Regions from separate parts of the Homo sapiens genome. Here regions 1, 2, 3, 4 and 5 are each linked to region 6. The links come from fine-mapping of genetic effects on gene expression. A gene starts in region 6. Each other region holds a variant in brackets. All regions are shown on one strand. Distances are between the middles of the regions.

Evidence for each region. PIP is the estimated chance that this variant, and not a neighbour inherited with it, causes the effect. A credible set is the group of variants that fine-mapping cannot tell apart.
Region 1: its variant is the best candidate, but not a certain one, in a credible set for the expression of LDAF1 in whole blood (INTERVAL, PIP 0.80).
Region 2: its variant is the best candidate, but not a certain one, in a credible set for the expression of LDAF1 in whole blood (TOPMed, PIP 0.63).
Region 3: its variant is the best candidate, but not a certain one, in a credible set for the expression of LDAF1 in whole blood (INTERVAL, PIP 0.70).
Region 4: its variant is the best candidate, but not a certain one, in a credible set for the expression of LDAF1 in aorta (GTEx, PIP 0.72).
Region 5: its variant is the best candidate, but not a certain one, in a credible set for the expression of LDAF1 in whole blood (INTERVAL, PIP 0.68).

Annotation. Positions count from the first base shown.
Region 1 is chr16:22,145,280-22,150,368 of GRCh38, forward strand. VWA3A (von Willebrand factor A domain containing 3A) reads left to right here. Exons shown (of 34, transcript NM_173615.5): 27 at 957-1,065; 28 at 2,883-3,027; 29 at 4,508-4,652. Among named protein-coding and RNA genes, the nearest start is that of SDR42E2, 15 kb to the right of the region's middle. The variant C/T (reference allele first, on the strand shown) is at 3,092.
Region 2 is chr16:21,322,858-21,327,946 of GRCh38, forward strand. No RefSeq gene overlaps it. Among named protein-coding and RNA genes, the nearest start is that of CRYM, 47 kb to the left of the region's middle. The variant G/A (reference allele first, on the strand shown) is at 3,039.
Region 3 is chr16:21,267,347-21,272,435 of GRCh38, forward strand. CRYM (crystallin mu) reads right to left here. Exons shown (of 8, transcript NM_001376256.1): 4 at 2,444-2,545; 5 at 208-391. Among named protein-coding and RNA genes, the nearest start is that of CRYM, 8.4 kb to the right of the region's middle. The variant T/C (reference allele first, on the strand shown) is at 2,107.
Region 4 is chr16:21,092,815-21,097,814 of GRCh38, forward strand. It overlaps DNAH3 (dynein axonemal heavy chain 3), which reads right to left. Exons shown (of 62, transcript NM_001347886.2): 18 at 4,541-4,685. Among named protein-coding and RNA genes, the nearest start is that of DNAH3, 56 kb to the right of the region's middle. The variant G/A (reference allele first, on the strand shown) is at 2,341.
Region 5 is chr16:21,368,992-21,374,080 of GRCh38, forward strand. It overlaps the pseudogene SNX29P1. Among named protein-coding and RNA genes, the nearest start is that of NPIPB3, 54 kb to the right of the region's middle. The variant C/T (reference allele first, on the strand shown) is at 2,027.
Region 6 is chr16:21,155,592-21,160,670 of GRCh38, forward strand. LDAF1 (lipid droplet assembly factor 1) reads left to right here and starts at 3,083. Exons shown (of 5, transcript NM_001301771.2): 1 at 3,083-3,155. It also overlaps a transcript of DNAH3 not described here. RefSeq lists silencers at 2,963-3,092, 3,143-3,322 and enhancers at 3,580-4,080, 4,215-4,364.

The DNA.
Region 1 (5,089 bases), 990 kb after region 6:
GTCATCTTTCAGTTCAAAATTTATGAACTTCTTACCCCACCATTTAGAGTTTTCTATTTTAAAATTTAGAGATTATTGGCCAGACGCAGTGGCTCATGCCTGTAGTCCCAGAACTTTGGGAGGCCAAGGCGGGCGGATCACCTGAGGTCAGGAGTTCGAGACCACCCTGGCCAACACAGTGAAACCCCGTCTCTACTGTAAATACAAAAATTAGCCAGGCATGGTGCTGTGCACCTGTAATCCCAGCTACTCAGGAGGCTGAGGCAGGAAAATCGCTTGAACCCGGGAGGCAGAGGCTGAAGTGAGCCGAGATCGCACCACTGCACTACACAGCCTGGGCAACCGACTGAGACTCTGTCTCAAAAAAAAAAAAAAATCAGAAATTATTATGATTTTTATTAATATAGCAACTGCATTTACCAAAAAAAAAATCTTAATTCCCTACTCCTTTGTAGAACCATAAATCCACTAGTTTAATAGAAGAAAAAAAGGCTTTAAACAAAAAAAAAAAATACACTTAACAGATGGTTGTTTTTTGTGGGTTTTTGTTTGTTTGTTGAGACAGGATCTTGCTCTGTCATCCAGGCAGGAGTGCAGTGGTGCAATCACAGCTCACTGCAGCCTCTACCTCCCTGGGCTCAGGCAATCCTCCCACCTCAGCCTCCCCCAAGCAGCTGGGACCACAGACACATGCCACCACACCAGCTAAATTTTCTGTTTTTGGTAGAGATGAGGTCTCCCTATGTTACCCAGGCTGGTCTTGATCTCTTGGGCTCAAGCGATCCTCCTGCCTCGGCCTCCCAAAGCGCTGGGATTACAGGCATGAGCCACCGTGCCCAGCCAACAAATATTTTGAGAATTGTTAACCACAATGGAATAAACAATTTTAGGGGGTGATGGGGATATGAAGAAATGACTGATGGGGTGGGTGCTTGCCTCTGCTTGCCTTAACCCAGGGAGTGGTGAGACACATCCAGTGGACGCCCAGGGAGATGGAGGTGTACATCAGGCACTTGGAGAAGGTGTTAAGGCGCTATGTCCAGAGGCTGCAGTGGCTGCTGTCCGGTGAGCCTGCCCACTGCCCTGAAGGGTGGAGGAGCATGAGGGGATGTAGAAGGCTAGCCCCAGGGACCCCAGTGTCAGTCCTTCCAAAGCCAGGCCTTCAAGAACTGCAGATCAGAGGATTAGGCCAGGAACATCATCCACATACAACATGACACTGGGAGGCCGGGCGTGGTGGCTCATGCCTGTAATCTCTGCACTTTGGGAGGCCAAGGTGGGTGGATCACCAGTCAGTAGTTCGAAACCAGCCTGGCCAACATGATGAAACCCGTCTCTACTAAAAATACAAAAAATTAGCCAGGCATGGTGGCGGGCACCTGTAATCCCAGCTACTCAGGAGGCTGAGGCAGGAAAATCGCAGAGGTTGCAGTGAGCTGAGATCGCGCCACTGCACTCCATCCTGGGCAACAAGAGTGAAACTCTATCCAAAAAAAAAAAAAATGACAGTGGGTTCAGAGGACAGGCAAGGGGCTGGATAACAGGGAGGTGGAACATGGGCCAAAGAGCCCCAGCGGGAGCTCACACGCATCCCAGCCTGCTCTGCAAGGCCACCTGCCACACCTTGCCTTCCTGCAAGTGACAAGGGGCTCACTGTCAAAAGGTTTGCTTTAATATTGACTGCGCCCCAGCAAAACAGCCCCTGGAGATGCAGATGGTAAGGGGAACTGACAGAGCAGAAACCCTCTGTTTTGTTTTGTTTTAGAAACAGGGTCTTTCTCTGTCACCTAGTCTGGAGTCCAGTGGTGCAGTCATGGCTTACTGCAGCCTTGAACTGGGCACAAGCAATCCTCCCACCTCAACCTTGCAAGGACCTGAGACTACAGGCACGTGCCACCATGCCCAGCTTACTTTATTTATTTTTTTTAGATACAGAGTCTTTCTATGTTGCACAGGCTGGCCCCGAACTCCTAGGCTCAAGCTATCCTCCTGCCTCAGCCTCCCAAAGTCCTGGGGTTATAGGTGTGAGCTACTGTGTACCTCTTTACAGAGAGCACCAAGTCCCCTCCAGGAGAGGTGAATGGACAGGGTTGGGCTGTGGATTAAGAGACGGTCTGGAAGCATCAAGCCCAAGAAGACAGGCAGACAGCTAGAACTGGACAGGAGGGGATTCGGGCTATGGGGCCTGGAGGGTTTCTGGGGCATCAGGAGGAGGGAGGAAGGGAGTCCTATATAGAGATCCTACAGGTGGCTTTGTACGTGCCACTCAGGGTCCTGTGTAAATTCATTAGGTCCAGTCCTCTGCAGTAGGACCTGGTATAGACAGTCCATGGACAGGGGCGTCATGATGACTGCTGCTTCAGGTACAGTTGTCAGGTCAGAGGCTGAGCTGGGACAGAGAAGGCGTGAGCCTCTCTCCACCCTCGGTTCACATTACCCCTGGGAACGGTGACATAAAACCAGAGATCCAGCGATTTCTTTTGTAGTATGAATCCCCCAGCTCACATACCAGTACACACCCAAACACCATCTAATATTTTAAAACAATGTCATGGTACTATTTAATCCAATCACTTAACTTTAAGGATAAGGAAATTCAAGCCCAGGAGGTTATAACCGCTTGTGCAACTCATCACAGACAAAGCCAGAGCTGAAATCTCGATCTCCCAAAGCCCAAACCACTGACCAGGTCTGTCCTTGGACAATCGACCCCTCCCACAGCACCACAAAAGCCGTCTCTCAGTGGGGTGACATCCAATCAATGATCAGGCAGGCAACAGGTGTCACAAGACTTTATACTTGATAGATAGAGTGAGGGAAACCACCCAGGAGGAGGGACCCCTCACTCCCTCCCTGCCTCTTCCCCACCTGTCTCGGAGCAGGGAGCCGCCGACTGTTTGGCACCGTTTTGGAGAGCAAAGTATGCATATTGCTGGACACGTCAGGGTCCATGGGCCCCTACCTGCAGCAGGTGAAGACAGAGCTGGTTTTGCTGATTTGGGAACAGCTGCGGAAGTGCTGTGACAGGTAGGAGGCGAGGGCTGATCAGGAAGATCAAAGGGGCAGTTCCTGGGGCTTCCCTGGCCAAGCA[C/T]GCCCCCTCTTCTCAGTGCCAACAGGCCTGGAGTTTCTGAGATGCTCTTCTGAGTAACGCGTTTGAGTAGGAAAGAGCACTGTATTCTGCTCTGCTGTGAAGGAAATCAGTTTTTAGAGGCCGGGTATGGTGGCTCATACCTGTAATCCCAGCAATTTTGGGGGCCAAGGCAGGAGGATCACTTGAGCTCAGGAATTCAAGACCAGTCTCAGCAACAAAGTGTCATCCCATCTCTTCAAAACATTTAAAAATTAGCTGGGTATGGTGGTGTGCACCTGTAGCCCCAACTACTTGGGAGGCTGAGAAGGGAGGATCACTTGAGCCCAGGAGGTTGAGGCTGCAGTGAGCTATGATTGCACCAGTGCACTCCTGCCTGGGCAACAGAGTAAGACCCTGTCTCAAAAAAAAAAGGAACGCAATTTTTAAAAATTAATTTCAGGCCTAGGGACAATTGCAAGCACAGCAAAGGAACTACCATGTGGCCTTGAAGTATGGCTTTCAGCTGAACTTGATTTGTTTTAAATTATTTAATGATTTAATTTTTTTAATTTTTGTGAACTTGATTTTTGAGTGGAGGAAGTTGTTTATTTTCCCCATCCAGAAGGGTTGACCCGAAGGGGACCCCAGGGGACTCTCATCGTAGACTAGGCCTCGTTCTTGCCTTAATCAGAGTATACATTTATTGAGCACTTTCTGTGCACCAGATGCTTTACACGCATCATTTCATCAACTCTCACAATGAGCCCGTGAGGTGTTGCTGTTATCGGCCCCCATTTTTCAGAAAAGGAAGCCAGGACTTCAAGAGGTTAAGACACTTGCTGAAGATCGGGTAACCAGTCACTGGCTGAGATAGGATTGTTTGGGTTGTTTGTTTGCTTGTTTGTTTTGAGACGGGGTCTCACTCTGTCTCCCAGGCTGGAGTGCAGTGGTGTGATCATAGCTCGCTGCAGCCTCAACGTCCTGGGCTCAAGTGATCTCCCACCTCAGCCTCCCAAGTAGCTTGGACTACAGGCGCACACCACCATGCCTGGCTAATTTTTTAAAAATCTTTTTCGTAGAGATGGGGGTCTCACTATGTTGCCCAGGCTGGTCTTGAACTCCTGGCCTCAAGCAATCCTCCCAGCTTGGCCTTCCAAAGTACTGGGATTACAGGCACAGGCCACTGTGTCTGGCTTGGGCTGGGATTTAAATCTATTTCTGTCTGCATTCAAATTGTCAGTGTGTACCCTCTCATTCTCAAGAGGCCCCACAGCCCTCTCCCTGAGGGGCCACAGGGCTCGTTGTAGGGGTCTTCAGTGACGAGCAAGAATAGTCCTCATGAGGGTAACTTATCTGAATTCAATCTAGACAGGCCTGTTCTAACCAATCTCTTTCTCCCCTTCTCTGCCCCTCACCTCCTCTTTTCCTCCTCCCCAGTTTTAACCTGCTCAGCTTTGCAGAGAGCTTTCAGTCATGGCAGGACACGCTGGTGGAGACCACAGATGCAGCGTGTCATGAGGCTATGCAATGGGTGACCCACCTGCAAGCTCAGGGCAGCACCTCCATCTTGCAAGCATTGCTGGCAAGTCCCACCACGGAGCCCGACCTTGACGCAAAACAAATACCATCATCCCCTATGCTGATGCTGCACGATGCTTTAGGATTTACAAAGGGCGCTTTATAATTTACAAAGCACTACATCATTTCATCTTCCCAACACCCGAGTGAGAAAAGGATTCTCAATGTTCTCACATTATAGATGAAGACACAGGCTGGGTGCGGTGGCTCACACCTGTAATCCCAGCACTTTGGGAGGGCAAGGCAGGTGGATCACCTGAGGTCAGGAGTTCAAGACCATCCTGACCAACATGGTGAAACCCCGTCTCTACTAAATACAAAAGATTAGCCGGGCGTGGTGGCACATGCCTGTAATCCCAACTACTTGGGAGGATGAAGCAGGAGAATTGCTTGAACCTGGGAGGCAGAGGTTGCAGTGAGCCGAGATTGCACCATTGCACT
Region 2 (5,089 bases), 170 kb after region 6:
TAATTCTCCTGCCTCAGCCTCTCGAGTAGCTGGGATTACAGGCATGCACCACCACATCCAGCTAATTTTGTATTTTTAGTAGAGATGGGGTTTATCCATGTTGGTCAGGCTGGTCTCAAACTCCTGATCTCAGGTGATCCACCCACCTCGGCCTCCCAAGGTGCTGGGATTACAGGCGTGAGCCACCGCGCCCAGCCTACCTTTTTTATTCTTAAGAGTGGACTTAGTTTTACCAACTTTGATGATTTGAATTCTCTGAGGCCCATGTCTCCTCCTGCTCCTGACCAGCTCTTGTAGGTTCCCCCCTGATTCCAGCCCCCAAGAAGCTACTTTCAGCTTTGAAATTTATGTGCCAGCTTTGCCTACCCCCTGAGAAAGGGAGATTAGATCAGGTGCTTTGCATCTGGTATTTTGCAGTTTTACCAAAAGTGATGATTATGACCCCTCAGCGTAATTTCATAGCCACCAACAATGTTCTTAGGTTTGGATAGCAATCCAAATATACTTTAAGCTACCATCAGATTAAACTGTCTTAAGAAAGTAGAATTAACTGTCATTATTTGTGGATTCTGAATTTGTGAATTCAACAACTCACTAAAATTTATGTGTAACTCAAAATCAGTAACTGTTTCACTTTTGAGGTCATTTGCAGACATGCAGGGAGTGGCAAAAAATTTTGAGTTCTCCAAGGGTGGTTCCCAGCCTTGGCCAGGTCAAAGAAGATGACACCCTGTCCACCTTGTTTCAACCCTCATACTGCAAACAAGTATTCTTGACTTGATATAGTTAGTGCCTTTTTTTTTTTTTTTTTGCATCTTTGTTCTTTATGTTGGTGATTTTGTTGTTTAATGTCAGCCCCAGGCATAGTGCTGAAGTACTGTCTCATGTTCCTAAGTGCAAAAGGGCTATGATTATGTCTTTTTTTTTTTTTTTTTTTTTTTTTTTTGAGACAGATTCTTACTCTGTTGCCCATGCTGGAGTGCAATGGCGTGATCTCGGCTCACTGCAACCTCCACCTCCCCCAGCTCAAGCCATTCTCCTGTCTCAGCCTCCTGAGTAGATGAAACTACAGGCACACACCACTGCACCCAGCTACAGTTTTATATTTTAGGAGAGATGGGGTTTCACCAAGTTGGCCAGGCTGGTCTAGAACTCCTGATCTCAAGGGATCTGCCCACCTTGGCCTCCCAAAGCGCTGGGATTACAGGCATGATCCACTGTGCCTGGCCCTGATTATGTCTTTTGGAGAAAATATCTATGTTAGAGAAGCTTAATTCAGGCATGAGTTATACTGCTGCTGGCTGTGAGGTCAGTGTTAGTGAATCAACAGTATGTATTAAATAAGGTGTCTTTAAACGGAAACACCCCAAAAAACAGGTCGTGTATTGATCAATTGATGAAAATGTGACCAGAGGCTTGCAGGAACCTAGGAGTATTTTCCCTAGGAGTAATCTTTCAGTATTCCCTAACTCAAGTGTCTGTGATGACTTTATAGAACATAACCAAGAATGATGAAAATGGATGGTGTCCAGGATGGGAACATAACATGTACAGCATCAGCACTTTCATATGAAAGTCTCCCAACAGCACAGGTGCAGCTGTACGTTCCACCAGTACACAGGGCACATTCAGTTCAAGAGCTGAGGTCGATACGGTGTAGACTCTGTAATTATATGGAAGCCTCCACTTTTGTTTGCCAGAATTTGTGCAAAGTCCTACTTACTTTCTTCTCAAGTCAAGTGTAGTCTCTAGACGAGATATATGGCAGCAAACAATGTTGATGATGAGTTCCAGGCACTGCTAACATTCTGTATTTTTAAACTCAGCACATACCTAGGCACAGTGCTGCCAGAGAGTAAACTCATAGTTATCTTAGTGGGTACACCTGGGTCCAGGAAAATAGGATTTATGTTTGCTATTTACCCTTTCCTCACAATAATAAATCTGCAGGTTTTTTTTTTTTTTTTTTTTTTTGAGACAGAGTTTTGCAGTTGTCGCCCAGGCTAGAGTGCAGTGGTGCGATCTTGGCTCACTGCAACCTCTGCCTCCCAGTTTCAAGGATTCTCCTGCCTCAGCCTCCCAAGTAGCTAGGATTACAAGCATGCACCACCACGCCCAGCTAATTTTTTGTATTTTTTAGTAGAGATGGGGTTTCACCATGTTGGCCAGGCTGGTCTTGAACTCCTGGCCTCAAGTGGTCCACCCGCCTCTGCATCCCAAAGTGCTGGGATTACAGGTATGAGCCACCACACCTGGCCAAAATCTGCAGTTTTATATCAAAATGTATCATCAGTGACAGTCCCTAAGGGCAATTGCATGTTTTTCTGACACCATAGTTGTATCACAATATATCACAACTGTTAGCATTATGGACTAGAAAAGCAGTACATTTACTGTTTTTTCAAAACTAATTGGACTATCCTTGATACCTACCATCCCCAGCCTGTTTGAGATGCAGTAAGGGGCTCAGGTTGGTGCCAAAATATTGGGCACACCCTCAGCCATGAGTTACCATGATTAGCGGCAAGCGCAGATGAAGCCTTGTCCTGGTGTGTGCCCTTGGGTTCTTTGAAGCTGATGAGTGATTTAGAACATTGGCAGCCAAGTATAAGCTGGTCATATGGAGTCACACATGAAGCTGAGAGATGTCTGATTCATCTCATCATGAAAGCTGTTACTCTTATCAAAATTTCATCAACTTTGGGGAATGATTATGTTGCTGACTAGAGATCAACATGGAAATCTGGGTATAAAAAGCAGTCAGGGAGGCTGGATCCTTTCTTTCAGTGGCTGCCTCAAATCCAGCAGGCCCTTGAATAATGTCATTTTGTCCAACGTCATTTTGTTATAATTTTGATGGGAAAAAAGAAATTGATTCCCAGCCCGGGCTGTTGTCAGTGTGGAGCTTGCATGTTCTCTCCGTATCTGTGTGGGTTTTCTCTGGGCATTCCAATTTTCTCCTGCATCCCAAAGATGTGCACTTTAGGGGAATTGACGTGTTGACATTGTCCCAGTCTAAGTGAGTGTGAGGTGTGCGT[G/A]ACTGTGCCCCGTGATGGCATTCATCCAGTCTAGGGTTGGTTCTTGCCTTGTGCCCTAAGCTGCAGGGACAGGCTCTGGCCCCCTGCGACCCTGAACTGGAATAACTATCTAAATCATTATTTTACTTGTGTTTGTTAATCTGTCTTAAATGTATATATGGCTCACATTATTTATTTCAGTGTTTAATATTAGAAGTGTTTTGGTATTTATTTAGATGTTTGGTGATGTTTTTCTGACCCCCGAAAAAAGAAAACAGTAATATACAATAAAAACTTAACTCTTTTTTTTTTTTTAATTTTTTTCAGAGACAAGGTCTTGCTCTGCTACCCAGGCTGGGGTGCAGTGGTGCAATCATAGCTCACTGTAATCTCAAACTCCTGGGCTCAAGTGTTCCTCCCACCTGAAGCTCCCAAGTAACCGGGATGACAGATGTGGGCCACTACTCCTGGGCTAATTTTTTTTTAATTTTGTAGAAATAGAGTCTCACCATGTTGGTCAGGCTGGTCTCAAACTCCTGGCCTCAAGCAGTCCCCCTGCCTCAGCCTCCCAAGTTCTGGGATTACAGACATGAGCCACCATGCTGGCCCTTAACTCTTGTTTATATCAATTAGATTATGGCAAAGTTAGTTTCGTTATACATCATTTCACTTAAAGTTACAGTTTCCAAGAACCTATTGATGATGATAAGTGAGGGCTTACAGTACATGTCTTGGAGATAAATCATTGTGAATGCACAGTCACCTCTCAGGCTAAATAAATATTAACTCAGGAACACCAGAATCCAGGTCAGTTCCAGAATCTGACCTCATTCTTCCCTCTTCCCTTTGGATAAAGGTGTTTCTTTGTTTATGAGAACTATAGGAATGCCTCATTTTTATGCAAATATAAAGCAAGTGCCCAACCACCGCATTCACCTAAATGCAGATGTTTTGGAGGCTCAAAACTCAAGGGTCTCCACCCAGGATCCCTACATACAGAAAAGACACTTGTCCAGGATGGGGGCTAAATCTTTGGAGTTGAGTGTTATGTTTTTATTTTGCTTTGTTTTTCATAGTTTTTTGTGCAAAAAATGAGTGGAGCAAAGTAGCTGAGGGAACTGACTGTATGCTAGTCTTTTTGAGATTCAGAACTAGTGATACGTTGGAGTCCAGGTGACAAGTGTGGCAGGGAGTGGAAACCCTGTTGAGAGACGGGGACTTGAGAAGCATGGAATAGTACCTTTGGTGAGGATGTTGATGTTCTCTCAAGCTATTCCATCTACATTGGCAATGATGAGGCTCCCGATGGAAGCTTTTGAGAATCAGACTATTGGGGATTTGCTGCAGGAAGAGTTGTGACAATCAAGCCATTTAAATCTGAGTAATAAAACCGCATGATATTTCATTTTCCCCTGCAGGCTTTTGAAGCCTTTGATATCCTGTTTACATCAAACACATTTACTCCTAAGAAAATCTTTAGTGTATACAATTCCACATACAGATATTTTAAATGACTAACTACTTTGGCTTAGAAGAGTACAAATGACACCCCAGTCTTTTAAAATTTCAATTAGATTAAGTTTAATCTAGGCTAAATTCATTGATTGATCACCTCAAATATTGAAACATAATTGCCTCAAATATTGAAACAATAAAGTAGTATTGTTCCTTAATTTCTTAGTATTTTCTCTACTAGAGATTCTCTTATTGTAGGATTTTGAATGAATTTCATGGATGGTTTCTTTTCTTTTCTTTTGAGTGGAGTTTTGCTCTTGCTGCCCAGGCTGGAATGTAATGGCGAGATCTCGGCTCACTGCAACCTCCGCCTCCCGGGTTCAAGCAATTCTCCTGTCTCAGCCTCCTGAGTAGCTAGGATTACAGGTGCCCTCCACTATGCCTGGCTAATTTTCGGTATTTTTAGTAGAGACGGGGTTTCACCACGTTGGCCAGGCTGGTCTTAAACTATTGACCTCAGGTGATCTGCTTGCCTCAGCCTCCCAAAGTGCTGGGATTACAGGCGTGTATTACGGGAAGTCAGGGACCCCGAACGGAGGGACCGGTTGAAGCCATGG
Region 3 (5,089 bases), 110 kb after region 6:
CTCAGTCTCCCAAAGTGCTGGGATTACAGGCATGAGCCACTGCACCCAGCCAAATATTGTTTTTTTCAATCTCACATGTTTTCAAGGCCCTTAAATAGCTTGGGCATTCTGCATGAATAAACTGGCTCTGCAAATGTAGTCGACTGGTCCCGTCTAGAGAGGAGCCTGGCCACCACCCATCATGCCTTATGGAGCCACTCTACTTACCATTGATGTGAGCCCCTGGCTTCACCCATTCACCAAACAAAATGGGCTCTGTTGCCAGGGTGACTGTGATGATCACATCTGCACCTGCCACAGCCTCCTGGACCGAAGAACAGACCCGTACCTCTCCTTGCACTGTGTCTGCAAACTTCTCTGCATTTTCTTTGGTGCGGTTCCATATCCTCACCTTCATTGGGAGTAACAAGAAGGATATTGGCGCCATTTTTTGGCTGCTTATGTTACACTGAGCCCAGGGATGCGGAGGGAAAGTTGAACTACTCTGGCATAGGGGTCAGTGGTTATCTAAATCACTCCTAAATCATTCCCCATGGAGAATGGACATTTGATCAGGGGTACAGCATTAACTTAGACACCTAGCCAGGTATTTGAAAATCAGCGTTCTCTACCACTTTCCCCTTTTAAAATGAGTGGAAGTATTTCACTTCTAGGCCAAGAGGCACAGCCTCAGTAACTTCATAGCTATTATATATTAATAGCATAATGATTAGCAGAGCAAGTTCTGGAGCCAGGTAGGCTTGGAACCAATCTCCACTCTGCTATTTCCTGAAATTGCTTCATGTCATTCAGCCTTAGTTTCCACATCTGTAAAATGGAAATATAACTGGCAAAGTCTGTGTGGAACTCACACTTTATGTCTGAGACCCCGTAAAGGAGTTGTAATGGGTGGGAGATTCATATGAAGGATTATTTATGATAATGTTTTTCATGGAATAACTTGATCGGTGAAGAATACTTAGGAAATTCAAGATCAGACGAGTTTGAAGGTAAATGGCATAGCCAATGAAAAGGCCAAGAATGGTAGCTACGGCTGGAATCCTGAAAGGTGCTGGGGTTGGAGGGTGGGGCAGCGGCCTCACCAGGAGCTGGGGACTTGCCGACTTGCTTGACAGGTTTCAATGTTTGGGTCAAGGGCTTGTCACCCGTCAACTGAAAATAAGGCCTACAGAATTTCTCATAAGGAAATATAATACATACGGAAACAAACTTTATGTCTAAGCAAGTTCACCAAGCAAGGTGAAAAACAGGACATTTTGCCCGGCCGGAAGTGCATGGTTAACCTCTTCACCCTTCTTGATAGAAGACTATGCAAATTTTATGCAAAAATTAGATAACCTGAAAAGTGATGTTAGAACATTCAGTAAGAGAGGATATAAAATGGTGCATATCTAACGTGACTAAAGCTATGTTATAAAAAGCTGAAGAGGGAAGATCAGAAAACATTAACTGTCTTTGAAAACAGATGAAAGGGCATTTTTCTTTTGTTTTCTTCCTTGTATTAAAAGTAATGGCAACTGGGCGCAGTGGTTCACGCCTGTAATCCCAGAACTTTGGGAGGACAAGGCAGGTGGATCACCTGAGGTCAGAAGTTCCAGACTAGCCTGGCCAACATGGTGAAACCCCATCTCTACTAAAAATACAAAAATTAGCCAGGTGTGGTAGTGGGCGCCTATAATCCAAGCTACTTGGGAGGCTGAGGCCCAAGAATCACTTGAACCCAGGAGATGGAGGTTGCAGTGAGCCGAGATTATGCCACTGCACTCCAGCCTGGGCGACAGCGCGAGACTCCATTTCAAAAAAAAAAAAAAAAAAAAAAGTCATGGCCAAAACTGCAATTACTTTTGCACTCACCTAATAGTCTATATTTCTCAAGGCAGTGGTTTTATTTTCATCATTAAATCATACTTTAAAACTGCTCCATCCCTTTCATACACACACATAAAATAACAATAGCATCAAAAATTCCCAGGGGGAAGCATGAGACGCAGTGGGGGGAAGGTGGACCAGTATGGAGACTGCAAAAGAGAGAGGCTGTGGCCTCCTGGTCTCCAGGTCTCATCCCACCCAGTTTCTTGATCCATAACCTTGAATACTTAAAAACTC[T/C]GGATTCTCCTAAGAAAAACATAATAGACAGGAGCTAAAAGGACAACTGAATGTATACAAGAGATATAATAGAATCTTTTAACCGAGTAAGCTTGCTGTATCCTCAGACAAATGCCCTCTGAACTGAGGACTGGAAACAGGTAATCAGATCTTCCCCTGACTCTTATCCTCCATCCCCTCCATCAGGGCTTCTGGGAAGTCATGAAGATACAAGAATGGTCTAGATGGGGCTCACAACTTAATTATTTCAGAATAACCTGTGGTGCAGTGAAGCAGTATAGACAGGTCAAGGACCACCCCCTTCCCTCTTCTCTCCCACCCCCACCCCTGGACTTACCTCCTTAAAGGAGAACTGCTCTGTGAAGATCTCATAATGGCTGTAGGCCTGGACCCCAGCCCCAAGGATGCACAGCACTTCACTGCTGGGAGGTTTCAGAAACTATATGAGAGAAATGAAGTGGCAAAGGTCAAGGGAGACCCTAGCAGACGGGTAAAAAACTAAGATGGTTTGAGTATCAGGTGACTTCTGCCCTCTCTTCTGCCTCCCTCAAGAGCTTGCAGGCAATCAAGAGAATTTCCTTTTGTGTCTAGTTTCCCCCGTATCAAGTGGGAAAAGAAGGAAGAAGGCTTCACTGAACAGCTAATGTATGCCAATGCTTTGCCCCCATGATCTCATTTAGTCTAGACATTGACCCTACGAGTTGGGGACTCCTACTATCTTCTTCTTACAGATGAAGAGACTGAGGTTGCCCTGGTAACAGAAAGGTGAACTTGCTCTGGGTCTTACAACTACTTTTTAAAATTATTTATTTATTTCTTTTTCTTTCTTTCTTTCTTTTCTTTTTTTTTGAGATGGAGTCTCGCTCTGTCGCCTAGGCTGGAGTGCAGTGGCACGATCTTGGCTCATTGCAACCTCTGCCTCCTGGGTTCCAGTGATTATCCTACCTCAGCCCCCCGTGGAGCTGGGATTATAGGTGTGCGCCACAACACCCAGCTAATTTTTGTATTTTCGATAGAGATGGGGTTTCACCATGTTGGCCAGGCTGGTCTCAAACTCCTGACCTCAGGTGATCTGTGCACCTCGGCCTCCCAAAGTACTGGGATTACAGACGTGAGCCACCGCACCTAGCCAGGTCTTACAACTATTGAAGGGCACAGTGTGGCTCTAAAGTCACGTCTTCCATACTCCAAAGCCCATGTCCTTTCTTCATATCTCAGGTACATGCTCAGCCATACCCACTTCTCAGAGCTCTGAGCTGCTTCTAAGAGCTGCCTGGATTCTGTGAGCCCTTCCTTCCCAGGGTTCTAGCTATATTCACTGGGCCAACTCTGTTGATCTTTTCACTGCCTCTGTCTTCCTCTAAAGACGAATGTAGAATTAGCATTTGTGGCATCTCCTGAGGGTGTCTGTGTTTGAGAGCAGGATTCTGTGATCAACTCACGTCCAGTGCCACCTCTCCAATGAAGCCTTTCTGACCTCCTTGATAGAATGCACCAGGCCATAGCACTTATTTGTTTGTAGATTTTCTTCTACAGGTCTTTAAGCCCCATGAGGACAGAGGTAGTCTTATTTGCACAGAACTGGTACATACCTACTATGACCTACAAGAGGTAGCACTGGGCTTCTCAACCTCGGTACTACTAACATTTGGGCTGGACAATTCTTTATTGGGGAGGGGCACCAACCTGTGTATTATAGGATGTGCAACAGTATCTCTGGTTTCTATCCATTAGATGTTAGTAGCATTTTCCACCCCTTCAAGTTGTGGGAACTAAAAACGTCTGCACACTCCTAAATGTCTCTGGAGCAGGTGGCAAACTCATGCTCAGTGGAGAACCACTGGCATAGAGGAAAGACATCACTTGGCCCTCGACACCATATGTATTAAATAAAACCCTCTTCTGCCTTTTCTCTATTCCATTTAGTAAACTTTGAGTTCCCTGTGGTCTGTTCTTTTATAAAATGCTACTCACTGGAATTTTGGAGTATAATATTTAAAAAGTGAAAAGTCTTCTTAACTACTAATTACTAGCAAAACAGCATCTCTGAAATATTAGGAATTAATTTTATCTCCTGCAGCTACCGAAGGAGAGATACCATTCTGTGCCATAAAATATAGTTTAACGTCTCTGATTTGAAAAGGTTTCAAAATGATAATATCCACAAGACTAGAAATCTTATGTTGCTGTCTGATAAGGATAATTAGATTTTTTTCCTTAATTGTTACCATTTTCTTCTGTTCTCAGTTAATATGAATCTATTCTTGAAAGTACAGGTGAGCTTCAGAAATTGTTACAGTATCCCATAAAAATAACCTTCAACTTCCTAAACTAAATGTGTAATTCTAATTGGTTGTCTTACTTGATAATTTGTTGCCCTGGTAATAGTGTGATAATTGATATTTTTAAAATTTTTTTTTTTTTCCGAGACAGTCTCGCTTTGTCGCCCAGGCTGGAATGCAGCGGTGTGATCTCAGCTCACTGCAACCTCTGCTTCCTGGGTTCAAGCGATTCTCATGCCTCAGCCTCCCGAGTAGCTGGGATTACAGGTATGTGCCACCATACTTGGCTAATTTTTTTTTTTTTTTTTGGTAAAGATGGGGTTTCGCCATGTTGGCCAGGCTGGTCTCGAACTCCTGACCTCAAGTGATCCACCTGCCTCGGCCTCCAAAAGTGCTGGGATTACAGGTGTAAGCCACTGCACCCAGCCGATTTTTAATCATATGTTTATAAGATTTATTAAACAGCATTAGTGGCACTTCAATCTTTTCTCCTAAGCATGCAGGTTATTAAGTACACGTATATGAATCTGCTGGGTTTCTCATTTAAAGAGTCTGAAAGTCTGTTTCATTTGCATTTGCCAAGGCCTTGCATGGTCTGGCCCTCCTATCTCTAAAGCTGTCTCTCATACCACCATGCCATGTTCCCCTGCACTTCCTGTCTTCCAGCCATACTGGCTTCCTTGCAGCTTCCCAAGCTCATG
Region 4 (5,000 bases), 63 kb before region 6:
AAAGCTCTGAACAAATACCTAATCTAAGAAGATATACAAGAGGTGAATAAGCATATGAAAAGATGTTCAATATCATTGCCATTAAGGAACTACAAATTAAAAAACAATGAGTGGCTGGGTATGGTGGCTCATGCCTGTAATCCCAACACTTTGGGAGGCCAAGGTGGGAGGATTGCTTGAGCCCAGGAATCTGAGGCCACCTGGGGCAAATTAGTGAGACCCTCATCTCAATTTAAAAACAATAACAACAACAATAGCCAACAACAGATACCACTACACACCTATTAAAATGGTCAAAACTCAAAACACTGACAACACTAAATGCTGGCAAGGATGTGGAGCAACAGGAAATGTCATTTATATTGGTGGAAATACAAAACGGTACAGCAACTCTGAAAGACAGTTTGGCCGTTTCTTACAAAACTAAACATATTCTTATCATATAATCCAGCAATTGTGCTTCATAGTACTTACCTCAAAAAGTGAAATTCAAAAACATACATCATTTACAATAGCTCCAAAAAAGGAAATATTTATGTATAAATTTAACAAAACATGCATAGGAGCTGTATGCTGAAACCTGCAAAACACTGATAAAAAGAAGTAAAAGGAGAACTAAATAATTGAAGAGATGTAAAGTGTCCATTGATTGAAAGACTCAATGTAATAAAGATGTGAATTCTTTCCAAATTTATCTATAGATTTAAAACATTTCCAACAAAATCCCAGCAGAGTTTTTTGGTATGTATAGACAAACTGATTCTCAAATTTATGTGGAAAAATAAAGGGACTAAAATACTCAAAATAAAATTTTAAAAAGAAAAATGAAGTTAGAAGAATCACACTATGTGATTTTAAGACTTTCTATAAAAATACAGTTGTCAAGTTGATGTGGTATCAGTGAAAGGCTTGACATATAGATTGGCAGAACAGAATAGAGTCAAGACATCAACCCACGAAGATATGGACAACTGATTTTTGACAAAGATACAATTAAGTGGATAAAAATTTTTTTTTCCCAATTACTGGAACCATTGGACATTTATATGTAAGACAATGAACTTGAACTAAGCCTCGTATTTTAAAAAAATTAACTCAAAATGGACCATAGGTCTAAATGTAAAACATAAAACCACAAAAAATCTAGAAGAAAATATAGGAGAATATCTTCATGACCAGGGTTAGGCTAAGAGTCCTTAGAGATGATACCAAGAGCACAATCCATAAAAGAAAAATTGATACGTTGGACGTCATCAAAGTTAAAACCTTTTTCTCTGTGAAAGACACTATAAAGAGAATAAAAAAACAAGCCATGGACTTGGAGAAAATATTTGTAAATCACATAATCTCACAAAATTTATAAAGACCTCACAAAACTCAACAGTAAGAAATCAAACAACCAATTAAACAAATGGGTAAAAGACTTGAACAGACACTTCACCAAAGAGGATATACAAATGACAGGTATGCACATAAAGAAATGTTCAAGATCATTAGGCATTGGGGAAATGCAAATTAAAATCATAATGAGACATCACAACTACTTATGAGAATGGCTAAAATAAAAAAATACAGGCCAAGCACAGTGGCTCACACCTGTAATCCCAGCACTTTGGGAGGCCGAGGCAGGTGGATCACCTGAGGTCAGGAGTTTGAGATCAGCCTGGCCAACATGGTGAAACCCCGGCTCTACGAAAAATGCAAAAATTAGCCAGGTGTGGTGGCATGCTCCTGTAATCCCAGCTAAATGGGAGGCTGAGGTGGGAGAATTGCTTGAACCCAGGAGGCGGAGGCTGCAGTGAGCCGAGATCACACCACTGTACAAAGTATGACAAAGTGACACTCCATCTCAAATATATATATATATATGGACAATAATACCCAGTGGCTGGTTGATATGGTTTGGCTGTGTCCCCATTCAAATGTCATCTAGAATTATAGTTCCCATAATCCCCACATGTTGTGGGAGGGATCTGGTGGGAGGTAACTGAATCATGGGGTCGAGTTTTCCCATGCTGTTCTCATGATAGTGAATAAGTCTCATGAGAACTGATGGTTTTATAAAGCTCAGTTCCCCTGCACATGCTCTCTTGCCTGCCGCCATGTAAGAAGTGCCTTTGCTCCTCCTTCACCTTCCACCATGGTTGTGAGGCCTCCCCATCCAAGTGGAACTGTGAGTTCATTAAACTTCTTTTTCTTTACAAATTACCCAGTCTCAGGTATTTCTTCATAGCAGTATGAAAATGGACTAATACACTGATGAAGAGGTGGAACAACTGGAATTATCACACATTGGTGAGGGATGCACAACGGCACAGCCACTGTGGAAAACAAAAGTTT[G/A]GCATTTTCTTATAAACTTGCAAATATACTTTAAATATAATTCAGCAATCCACTGCTGGGCATTTACCCTAGAGAAATAAAAACTTACATTGACACAAAAACGTTGACATAAATATTTACAGCATCTCTATTTATAATAGTCTGAGAGTGAAAACAGTGGGTAAATGGTTAAGCTGGTGTATCCATAGAATGGGATACTACTCGCAATAAAAGGAAATGACCTATTGCTACATCCAACAACTCGGATGAATCTTAAAGGCAGTGTGCTGAGTGAAGGAAGCAGTCTTGAAAGATTGCATACTGTATCATTCCATTTGTAGGAGGAGCCTCAAAAGGACAAAACTATAGGAACAATGAAGAGATCAATAGTTGCCAGGGGTTACAACTGGGGGGAGGATTTGACCACAAGGAGACAGTCCAAAGAAATTTATTGAGTTGATGAAATTGCTGTTTTCTGATTGTAGTGATGTTTATATGAAAGTCAACAACTGTTAAAATTCATAGAAATGTATGCCAAAAATGTCCATTTTAATGTATATAAATTTAAAAATAAAATGTAAAATGTTTTTAAAATACAATACCTATTTCTAATAAAAACACTTGGTAATTTATAAATACTGTTTTTTTTGAGACAGGGTCTCGCTCTGTCTCCCAGGTTGGAGTGCAGTAGTGCCATCACAGCTGATTGCAGCCTCAACCTCCCAGGTTCAAGCGATGCTCCTGCCTCAGCCTCCTGAGTAGCTGGGACTATAGGTGCACACCACCATGCCCAGCTAACTTTTTCATTTTGTTTTTAGTAGAAATAAGGTCTTGCTAAGTTGCTCAGGCTGGTCTTAAACTCCTGAGCTCAAGTAATCCTTCTACCTTGGCCTCCCAAAGTGCTGGGATTACAGGTATGAGCCACCATGACTGGCTTTCTTGTGTTTATAAATACTGAAGCACTAGAAACTTGCTAAAGGCTCAAACCTAAGGGTCTCTGATTTTTTTTTTTTTTTTTGAGACAAGGTTTTGCTCTGATGCCCAAGTTGGGGTGTAGTAAGCAGATCATAGCTTACTGCAGCCTTGATCTCCTGGGCTCAAGCGTTCCTCCCATCTTAGCTTCTCGAGTAGCTGAGACTACACGTGCACCATCACACTTGGCTGATTTTTTATTTTTTGTAGAGACAGGGTTCTCACTATGTTACTGAGGCTGGTCTCGAACTCCTGGGCTCATGCAATCCCCCTGCATCAGCCTCTCAAAGTGCTGGGACTACAGGTGTGAGCCACTGCACCCAGACAAGGATCTCTGATTTTGTCCTCTGTTCTTCAACACCCTCCACAGGTGTTATCATTCATGGCTTTGATTGTAATCTACACATCAATTATTCCCCAACATAAATCCCACCCGCCAAATCTCTCTCCTAAAATCCACACTGATACACTCAATTGCTATTTAATATTCCCATTTGATTGTTTCCAGGTGCCTCAAACTCAATGTATTCAAGTTGATGGGTTTTTTTTTATTTGTTTGTTTTGTTTTGTTTTTTTCCCAACAAATCTGTCACTTCTCTTTTTCAGTGATGGTAATACCAACCAAATTGCCTGAGCCAGTCATCTGGAAGTTGGTTCTTTGCTGTTATTATCCTCACTCATCCCTGAAGTAAGAGAACTAAGTCTTGGAGAAGCTAAGTAACTTTTCCCAAAGGTCAGCTAGTAAGTTCTTTAAGCATTAAAATTCTTACCTCTGAGGCAATAAAATTCTTACCTTTGAGAGGATAGTAACCTCTTCCTCCCTGCCCCTTAACCCATATCGGATCAATCATTAAGTCCTGTTGATTCCAACTCCTCAATACCTTTCTGGACCCCAGATCCTAGAGTAAAAGGTAGTTTACAAATGTCTATGGCACCCTGGCACCCTGGTCTTTCCTGAAGCAGCACCATCGTGAAACTGCCATCTGTTCTCCTACCATCTGCAAATCTAAGTCGTGACTCTGGGTGGCTGCCTATTGTGTTTTACCCTGGAAATAGATCTGGCTCTTTCTCCACCTTCCATTTTTATTATCACATCAGATAATTTTGACTGTGGCTGCCTTAATCTGGAGTGTCAGAATCTGATTAAAAGTCCAGCCAGATTCTTAAGTGCAAACCATATTTCAGAAGTGACTGGGTGGATCCTCCACCTCATCCCCATCTGTCCCAGCAGAGTGAGATCACCACATACCATTCATCCATTCCTCTGACTTGATGCTGAACTCATAGGCTGTCGACCACAGCTGCTCATAAGGTACTTTGTTCTTCAGCATGGCCTGCAGAAGAGGGTAAGTACTCTTCTCCTTTTCCAATAGCTCTTCCTCCTTATTGATCAACTGCAGGGCAAAAGGAGATGCTGTTTATGGGATGGGTTGTTCTCCTAAGCCCTCGAAGACACCAGGGCAAATTCCTCAGTGCCTTGAAAACCAAGTGGAGGGAAATGCTTATTCATCTGGAGAGTAAGAGAGGAAACTAAAGCATGAACTCAAGCAAGAATGTCCCTCTGCCACCTCCAAGGACCTTGGCAGCTGAGGTCTGTCTGGTTGAAACTGTAGGATAATCAGCTACTTGCCCTATCATCTCTGTTTCCACTCTATGACAGCCATATCTCCGTTTTCATAATTTTCATATGTACTTTAGCTACATATATG
Region 5 (5,089 bases), 210 kb after region 6:
CTTTTTTTTTTTTTTTTTTTTTTTTTTTAAATAAGAGACAGGGTCTTGCTCTGTTGCCAGGCTAGAGTGCAGTGGTGCAATCATGGCTCTCTGCAGCCTTGAACTTCCTGGCTCAAGCGATCCTCCCACTTCAGCCTCTCAAGTAGCTGGGACTGCACATGCATGCCACTGTGCCTGGTTAATTTATTTCCTACTCTTTAATAAAGGAGGTGGTATGCTGTAAACTCTTGTAGGATGCGGGTGTGTTATGCTGAGCCCTGGTTCTGGAAGGCAGTCTTGTGGCTAGTTGGAAGATGGTAGAGTGACAGAGCTCAGCCCCTTGTTGGCACTCTGCTCTGCCAATCCATTTGTGCCTTGCAGTCAGGCTGGCTCAGTTTGGGATGTGACAGATTTAGGAGCACTTGTATTCACTGAGTTCTCAGGCTGGCACATGAGTGAACTTGGTTTACCTTTGTTCCTGGCATGGCTGATACCATGTGTGGCTGATTCTGTTAGAGTGTGCCCTCAGATTCATCCCTCTGTCTTCTTTGGCTTTGATAGAACCCAGATTTTGCTTGAGGCTGTGGTATGTACTCCTTTATCTCGGTGAGGGATTAAGCCAGTTTTGAGTTTTGTTCTTTGCTTTCTTTGCTCCCTTGTGATTTTCTGGGATTACTTGTTCTTTCCTGATAAAAGGGGCGATAAAGCTGGCTTCATCCCATTCCCTTTCTTCCTGCTCAATTGTAAATGAGATGCCCAAAGTTAGGACAGTCCTCTGTGACAGCGAGGTCAAAAGGTTGGAGGTTTTGGCCTGACATAGCCTTTGTATCACTGGCCTATTTCCAGACTAGCCCAGCTCCATGGGGTTGGATTTTCTTTGTGTGTGGGTTTTTTTGTTTTGTTTTGTTTTTAGAGACAGGGCCTTGCTCTGTTAACTAGGCTGGAGTGCAGTAGTGCAATCATAGCTCATTACAGCCTCAAACTCCTGGGGTCCAGCCATCCTCCTGCCTCTGCCTCCCAAGTAGCTGGGACTACAGGTGTGTGCTGCCACACTCGGCTCCTTGTAGTTGGGTTTTCTGTTTCCTTTTTTTAGAGATGGGTTCTTACTATGTTGCCCAGGCTGGTCTTGGGTTTTCTGTTTTTTTCTTTTTTTTTTTTTTTTGAGACAGAGTCTTGCTCCATTGCCCAGGCTGGAGTGCAGTGGCACCATCTCGGCTCACTGCCAGCTCCGCCTCCCGGATTCACACCATTCTCCTGCCTCTGCCTCCCAAGTAGCTGGGAGTACAGGCGCCCACCACCACACCTGGCTAATTTTTTGTATTTTTAGTAGAGATGGCGTTTCACCGTGTTAGCCAGGATGGTCTCGATTTCCTGACCTCGTGATCCACCTGCCTCAGCTTCCCAAAGTGCTGGGATTACAGGCGTGAGCCACCGTGCCCGGCGGGTTTTCTGTTTTTTTTGTTGTTGTTGAGCAATGCTTTGTTTTGGGGCAGTGTTGTCACATTGATGAGACACCCCTCACCCCCCATGGCTGTGGAGCACAGGTGTTGCTCAGCACTTGGTGTGTTCTTGGTCTTCTATAGATGATTGTCAGATGACTGAAGAACATGCCCTGTCTCACTGCATTATTTCCTGTGGTTGCAAATGATAGAAAATTCTTTAGATTGATTTAAGAAAAAAAAAGATGAAGGACATTTATTTATTGACTCAAGTATCTAAGAAATCATCTTGGAGTTGAGCTGGATTCAGGGGGCCTGCCCTTCTCCCAAATCTGTCTCCATCTGTCATCCCTCAGCACCGCTTCTCTGTGGTTGGGTGTCTTTCCAGGTGGGGGGTCTCTACATGATGGGGTGGAAAATGGCCCCAAGTAGCTCCAGGTTTCCAGGATGATGAGAGATCCTACTTCTAGGACGGGGTCGGCACACTCCCTCCTTATGGGTCATATTATAGGGTTTGTGAGCCATGCAATCTCCATCGCAGTGACTCAGCTCTGCCACTGGAGCAGAAACTCAGCCACAGACCATATGGGAGCAAATGGGTGTGGCTG[C/T]GTTCCAAGACCACTGTGCTTACAAAAACAGTTTGGAGGCCAAATTTGACCCCCAGGCCATTGTTTGCTGACCTCAGCTCCTGGAGGAGACAAGGCCTCTTTTCTGGTGGCTCTGGTAGAACTTGTGCGAAGGGACCCTGTGGTCCAGGGCTGAGACTGGGGTGAGGTTAGTGACACACTCACTTTGGCCACAAAATTGAAGGCGGTACCAAAAAACTTATCAATCAAGATAAATACTATTTTTATGTAATATTAAAAAAAAATGAAAGTTGCATATGCCATGGTTCCGGCCAGTTAATTGCCTGCCCTGGGTTAGCTGTCCACCCCTGCAGTAGGGGGAGGTTAGGATAGTGCTGAAGGATCCCAGTGGAATGTGTTTCCCATAGGAAAGAGGGGTGGTCTTACTAGAAGAAAGGGAAAGGGACCAGGCTCGGTGGCTTACGCCTATAATCCCAGTGCTTTGGGAGGCCGATGCTGGATGATCATTTGATTCTAGGAGTTCAAGACCAGCTTGAGTAACATAGTAAGACCCTTGTCTCTACAGAAAAAAATAAATTAGCCGTGTATGGTGGTGTACACCTGTAGTCCCAGCTACTCATGAGCCTGAGATGGGAAGATCGCTTGAGCCCAGGAGTTCAAGACTGCAGTGAACTATGATCGTGCCACTGTGCTCTAGCCTGGGCGACAGAGTGAGACCTTGTCCGCACCCCACCCCTCAAAAACAAAACAAAACAAAACAAAACCCCAAACAAGGAAAAGGAATGCTGTTTGGTGCACGTGTAGTAGTGATATTAATAGTTGGTTTTCGTTGAGCACCAATTATATGCCAGGTATGTTAATAACTATGGCTAACATTTATTCACTGCATTTATTGGATACACTTTACATGTATTCCTTTTTCTCATTTTTCCCTCATAGCAATCCATACACATAGGTACTGTTCTCCCCACTGTACAGATGAAGAAAGTAGAGGACAAAATAAGTTTCCCAAGGTCACACAGTGCCTGAACTAGAATTTGGGACAAGGTTTTTGTCTTCCTTGTGGTCCCCAAGGAATGAATTCTTGGGCATCGGTGATAGTTAAGTCTTGATAGAAACTTTCCCAAAAGCCTGGTGCTGTTAGTCATCCTCTGTTAATAGGTGTCCCGGGGCAGCTCTTCTCAACACCCCTTCCTGGCACTTGTTCTTGTTGGCATTCGGCTTTCAGGTGTTTGGAGAACCAGAAGCCCTTGCCCGCTTTTTGACTTAACCCCATGTTTCAAAGCAGATCAGTGTATATCCCTAAATTAAATTACGGACACCGCAGGCGCTAATTGGCAGGTGAGCTGCCCTTTAAATAGACCACATTAACTCTGGCAGTGGAAGCGGAACCCTGCTGGGATAATTCTTATCATCAGCAGCATCACCCTGACAAGCTTTAAAAGGATTCTGTAGCAGTAAGCAATTTTGCAGAATTGAAAGGTGAAAACACACTTTAAAGCGTTCATGTAGATTCAAGGTCGGAGGGAGGTGACTGCATTTTTCAAGACAGGCTGCAAGTGAGAGTCACTTGACTGGAAATGTGATGGACGTACCGACAATGGTCTGGGGTATTTTGAAATACGTTGTTGGCCGGCTGGCCCAGGGCGTTGTTGTCGCCAGATTCCCCGTCCTGGTTTCTGAGTGAGGCGGAGAGTGGAAGGAAGGCTGTTTTGTACAGTTGTGTGGATTAGACTGATCGGATGAGCTTGGGAAGTGGATTAGTTTGACATTTAGGGATTGAGACAGAAGACAGTCTTGAGGGACCTGCCCTCTTGCTGGTTTTTGTTATTCCTGGGAAGTTTATCCTAAATGATCCCAGTGATTGTCTTGATCCACAAATACTTATGCACGCTCATACGGATGTATACATTTAGATGCTGCTAACACAAAAAGGAACCCACGCGAATGCCCTCTGCTATGAAGAGAATTAATTATTAAGCAAATGCTGATTGGTCATCATGGACTGGGCACTGTGCTCGGTGCTTTCCTTCCCTTTCTAGTTACCCCAGTAACCCTGGGCGATTCTGCACTTTTGTGTTGATTTTATGGGAGAGGATTTTCAGGCTTAGCATGGTTGAGTGACTTGCTCAAGGTCATTTGGTTGAATGGACTTTTTCTCTGTTGTCCTGCCTGCTAGACTGGAAGCCCCTTAGGGACGAGTTCTTGTTGTCTCTAGCTGGTGACACATAGCCTAGCTTGGTTCACAGCTCCCAGGAAGAATGCAGTGGATCCTAGTGAAGTTGAATTGAAACATTAGAGTGAACTTAACTAGCCTGCCATGCAGTTTCTGGAGATGGGTGTACTTGCCTCCTTCTGGAAGGCAGGTTCAAAGCCTTTGTCACATTTCAGAGGGGACTGTGAGCCTGTTTAGCTCCTAGATTGGAAGCCAGGTCCGACTGCAAAGACTCAGCTTCCCCCACTTGGAATATTAAACAGTTGTGAACGTGATCATTTTGAAGAGGGCCAAGTCCCCTCATTTTGCAGGGCAGTGTGATTTAGTGGTTTGCAGTGAGCTCTGGGGTCCCTTTCTGCCATACTGTTTACTAACTGTGTTGCTGGGCGAGTCACTTCACTTGTCCTGGCTTCAGACCTTGTCTTTCACATGGAGATGGCCTTGGTTGTGATGATGTCAGATGTAAAGTGTTTACTGCAATGGCTGGTGCATAGTTAATGCTCAGTAAATAGTAGTTGCTGTTGCTGCTGTTATTATTATTGCCAGCATGAAAAAATGTTAAAGAGCCAATGTTAAGTGAAGAAAATTGATCACAAAATTATGTATACACTAGCATTACAACTATGAAAATATCTGGGGTTGGGCAAGGTGGCTCCTGACTGTAATCCTAGCATTTTGGGAATCTCAGGCAAGAGGATCGCTTGAAGCCAGGAGTTTGGTACCAGCCTGCACAACATAGCAGAATCTCATCTCTACAAATAAATAAAAATTAAAAAATTAGCTGGGCATGGGGGTGCGTGCCTGTGTCTCAGCTACATGGGAGGCCGAGACAGGAGGATCACTTGAGCCCAGGACGTTGAGGCTGCAGT
Region 6 (5,079 bases):
AGCCTGGGAGACAGAGCAAGACTCCGTCTCAAAAAAAAAAAAAAAAAAAAAAAGTTTTAGTATAAGCATGTCCCATTCAATACATGGGCTGTACTTGTACTTGTACTAAAAAGTTACCCATTATTTACCTGAAATTCAGATTTAATTGAGTGTCGTGTGTTTTTATTTGCCAAATCTGCCAACATGGGGAGCAGAGGTCAGCAAGGTTCCAAGTTGCCCCTGCCTCTTGTTATCAAGAGTTTAGGGTCTTAATCTGTTGCTAAAAAAATTTCACACATTTCTTATTCAGAGGCTGGTATTCCTGGCAGCTCATTCCTGAGGCCTAAAATAGTTGTTTAAGCAGAGCAACAGTTTCAATCCTTGGAGGCTACTATAGCAAAGTACCAAAGTCTGGGTGGCTTATAAACAAGAGACATTTATTTCTCACTGCTCTGAAGGCTGGAAGTTCACAATCAGGGTGCCAGGGTGGTCTGGTTCCAGTGAAGGCCCCCTTCCATGTTGCAGGCTGCCAACTTCTCATTGTATCCTCACATGGTGGAAAGAGGGTAAGAGAGCTCTCTGGGAGTTATTCTTATTTTATTTTATTTTATTTTATTTTATTTTATTTTATTTATTTTATTTTATTTTATTTTATTATTTTATTTTATTTTATTTTAATGAGCCAGGGTCTCACTTTGTTGCCCAGGCTAGAGTGCAGTGGTGCAATCTCAGCTCACTGCAGCCTCCACTGCCTGGGCTCAAGAGATCCTCCTGCCTCAGCCTCCCATGTAGCTGGGACTACAGGCATGTGCCACTATGCCCGGCTAACTTTTGTATTTTTAGTAGAGAAGAGGTTTCGCCATGTTGCCCAGGCTGGTCTCGAACTCCTAGACTCAAGCAATCCACCCACCTTGGCCTCCCAAAGTGGTGGGATTATAGGTGTGAGCCACTGGGATCTCTTTTATAAGGGCACTAATCCCATTTAGGAGGGCTTCACCTTCATGACCTAATCACCTCCCAAAAACCCCATGCCTAATCCCATCACATTGGGGGTTAGGATTTTAGAGGAACAGACATTCAGTCCATTGCAGCAAGTAATTGGGAAAGCATAGGAGAGGCTGCGCGTGGATTTTTTTAACCCAACCACTGCATGTTCCTTGAGGGCCAAGTCCTGATGCTATGGAGAGATGCTAGGATCCCAGCCCTGGAGGAACACATGATGTGATGGAGGAAGCATCTATCACACAAAGACAAGCAAAACTCTGCTGGCCCAGCCAAAAATGCCAGAGGTGGAAGGAATTTGAAGATTCACAGAGACGCCCCTAGATGGCACTCTTAAACAAAAATCCCAGTGGAAACCCTAACTCAGCTTTCCAAAGCAACTTCCATTTAGGGAATGATGATTGGAAGGCTGTAATCTAAGGAAACACACACACACACACACACACACACACAATCTTTTCCTGGGTGGGGAACCCAGCATTTTGCAGCTGAACAAAGTGCATGACGCCAGACAAGATTGGCTAAAACTTAAGAATTTAGGGATTCTTGTCTGTCCTATCCCCACCATTAGCTCTTCTTTCTGCTATTGTGGAATTACAGCAGGATTCTGTGGTTTATCATATCATTGTCGTGATCATCATCATAAATCATCATCCCAAGCAAATATTTTTGAGCCCCTACTCTGTGCCTCAATAGGTGCTAAGTTCTCGACAGCCACAGCCACACTATTGCACCAGTCCTCACTACAACCCTGTGATTGCTTCTTTTTTTTTTTTTTTTTTTTTGAGACAGGGTCTCACTCTGTTGCCCAGGCTGGAGTGCAGTGTCTTCACTGCAACTTCTACTTCCCAGGTTCAAGCGATACTTCTGCCTCAGCCTCCCGAGTAGCTGGGATTACAGGTGCGCACCACCATGCCTGGCTAGTTTTTATATTTTTAGTAGAGATGGGGTTTCACCATGTTGGCCAGGCTGGTCTGGAACTCCTGGCCTCAAGTGATCTGCCCACCTCAGCCTCCCAAAGTGCTGGGATTATAGGTGTGAGCCACCGCACCCTGCCAGCTTTTTGTTATCTAAAGACTTATTTTCCAGGTTGCTATGGCCACAGGCAAAGAGGAGAGGTCGGTCAACACAGGTCCCTGTCTGGAAAGTGGCTGAGAACTGTGCAACAGCAGACCAATGGTTGGGCTTATCCCTCTCTCTAATTTATGGTTGAAGCCATGGTTCAGAGAGGTTACTTAGTCACACAGTAAGTTGCCATCATGCTCTATAGCAGTGGTTCTCACCTCGGGACGATGGGGCCTTCCAGGGGACATTTGGCAATATTTTGAGACACAACTGGAGGTGGGGGGGGGCGGTTCTTGTAACTGGCATCTAATGGGTAGAGGCTAGGATATTGCTAAACATTCTACAATCCACAGCTCAGAAACAGAATTATTCCGCCCCAAATGTCAATAGCATACTATTCAGAAACCTTACTCTATAGGGCAGATTTGGGGCCAGGGGAAACAGGGGCTCCTGCTCCGACTTGGATCCATGCAAACCGAGGAATTTGGATTGATTTATCTTGTCTCTCTCAGCCTGGACTTTTTCATGTGTAAAATGGACATCCAATCCATCTGAAAGGATCTCACTGGCTTATGACATTCGCATTTGAGCAGTCATGGTTAAAAACTTCCAGCCAGGGTGATACTTCATCACGTGTGTGTCTTGAGCGCCAGAGACGTTCCAGAGCAGCTGGTTTTAGGCATACAGGAGGGGAAACCCTGACACCCTTGGAAAACTCATTCTCGGCTGCCAGTCTGCCTGTCTTGAAGGTGGTCTGAGCTTTCTCACTCCAAGCCAGTCGTGTGGGAAGGGACACTCTCTGAGCCTCAGTTTCCTCAGCTGTCAACCTCTCAGGGCTTGTTCTAGTGGCTCCGAAAGCCAGTGGGAGCGAGCGCGCTTTGCAAAGCCTTGGGCGCCGGGCCTTGGCGCGCCTTTGCCGGATCCTTCCGGCCACGGGCGGGGCGAGCCCAGAGGAGAAGAGCCGAGGGGCGGTGCCCGGGCCAGGGGGCGGAGGCAGGCGGCTCTGGCTCCCTCTCGGGACGCTCTTTCCTTCTTCCTCTTGTTCCTCCTCCTGCCTCTCTTCGCTTCGCCTGCAAACGCGGTGGGGGCTGCTCGGCGGTCAGGAGCAGGTGAGAGCTCGGAGCTTGGGGGTGGGGGTCCGGGTGCCCCGGGTGGCTAGACCCCTCTCGCCGGGCGGGGACAGAGGAGGAGCGCGGGGGCGACGGCGTGAGCGCGCTATCGGGGTCCCACGCCCGTAGCTTTCTGCCCCGGGGTTAGTGTAAGGGGCGTCTCCTGCTTATGAGTCGCCGGGACGGGGCTGGGAGCGCACGAGGAGACACGATTCCTCCCCACCCCTAAATGCACACTCACCCCGCCACCCCCCAACACACACACACATACACACACACACTACCACTAGATTAGGTAAAATGGTAGCTAGCACCACCACACCCCGAGACTGTGCCCCTTTCTGGGGAACCTGGGGAAGACGTCGAGGCAAACCTCCCTAGGATTATTGAAAACGGGCGCCTTCCTCACCACCCAGCCCCTCTTCTCCACCGAGGTCCCCTTCCCCATCGCTGCAGAGAGATCTGCAAGTATCAAAGGGGGCTTCTTTACCCCCAAATTAATAACTAAGTACTCGACTCCCCTCTGAGTTCCCATTATTCAGTCTCTGTGCCTTCTGGGACGCGGACCCCCTCTCCACCTGCATTTCACTCCCTTCCTCCTCTCCTTGGGTCTCCCTGGCTTTTGAACGCTGAAAGGCTGGGCCCGGATGGGGAGGGGCGGCCAGTGTGAGCTCGAGGCGCCCTGTAGCTCCCATCCCCCAACCAGAGATGTGACCCCTCCTCCCAGCTTGAACTTTCGAGGTAGCCGTTTTCCCCTGGAGGTTCGGGGGTGGGAGGGCCAGGAGATTTATTTGGAGCCTTGGAAGGGGAAAGGGTTAGCTGGTGTTGGCCTGGCCCAGTCCCCCAGGCGTGAAGAAGGCGGGGCACTCCTTGGCCGCGCCGGGTTCTCGCTTTCCCTTCTCGGGAGACAGCTCCGTGCCTGGGGAGGCCCCTCCGAGGAGTGAGTGACCAGGGGGTCTGGGAATTGGTGGCCAGGTAGACGCATTTGAAGGCTGTGGCCGATGGCATTCGCCCCACGCACTCTCTCATCGGACTCCCCAAACCGGTCTGGGTGGCACTTGAGGCTCCCAGGCCAAAGGAGACCTGTAAGGGGAACTCCGCTTGTTTCTGCTTGCTGCAGAGATGAGATTATGGGAACTGAGTGCTGGGAACATCCCAAGTTCAAGACCTACGCCAGAGGCAGCTTCAAAGAGAGAATGTGGGGTGGTGGGATTAGTCCCCTCCTCAACTTTCCCCTCCAAAGGGTTTCTTGTTTTACAAAAGGGAAGTAGCAGAGGATGTCTAGCTGGGATGATTAAAATGTGCTTTAATTTGCATACTAGACCCTGTACAGCTTAGTAGTAGATAAAATTACCCCCTATATGATAAATAAATGTGAGGATCTCTCAATTAATTTTGGCCACGTGGACACAATCTTTTAAGCATTTGTACTGTAGGTCAGGTCAGTTTAAAGGGAGAAATGGAAAAGATATCTCTGTGTCCAGCCAGTTCTGGGAAATATAAAATAAGAATGATTTTTTTTTTATATTTGAAAACTCAACAAGGGTTAAAAAATATATCTAATTTAACCAATTGCCTTTATTAAAAATAAGTAAAAATTGTATGAGATTGGGACACCCCTCAAAATTCCAGGCAGTTTAGTTAGAGTATAATTACTGTGGTGAGGTCTGCCCCCGAGGTGCAGTTCTCCTTAGCAGGGATAGACTTACCCACAAGTAAGTAGATGATGATGTATGGAATGATGGAATTGGGAGCCAACCTGTACAGTAATAAAGAAGAGAAACAGGTCAAGGCTACTGTTGTACAAGGAAAGCTTTCTAGGGAGAATAAAAGGCAATGAGATTTGAAATAGTGTGTTCAGCTTTCTTGCTTTCTGTATATTTTCAGCATTTTGTCAAGCTAAAAAATAAACATAAGCTGTCAG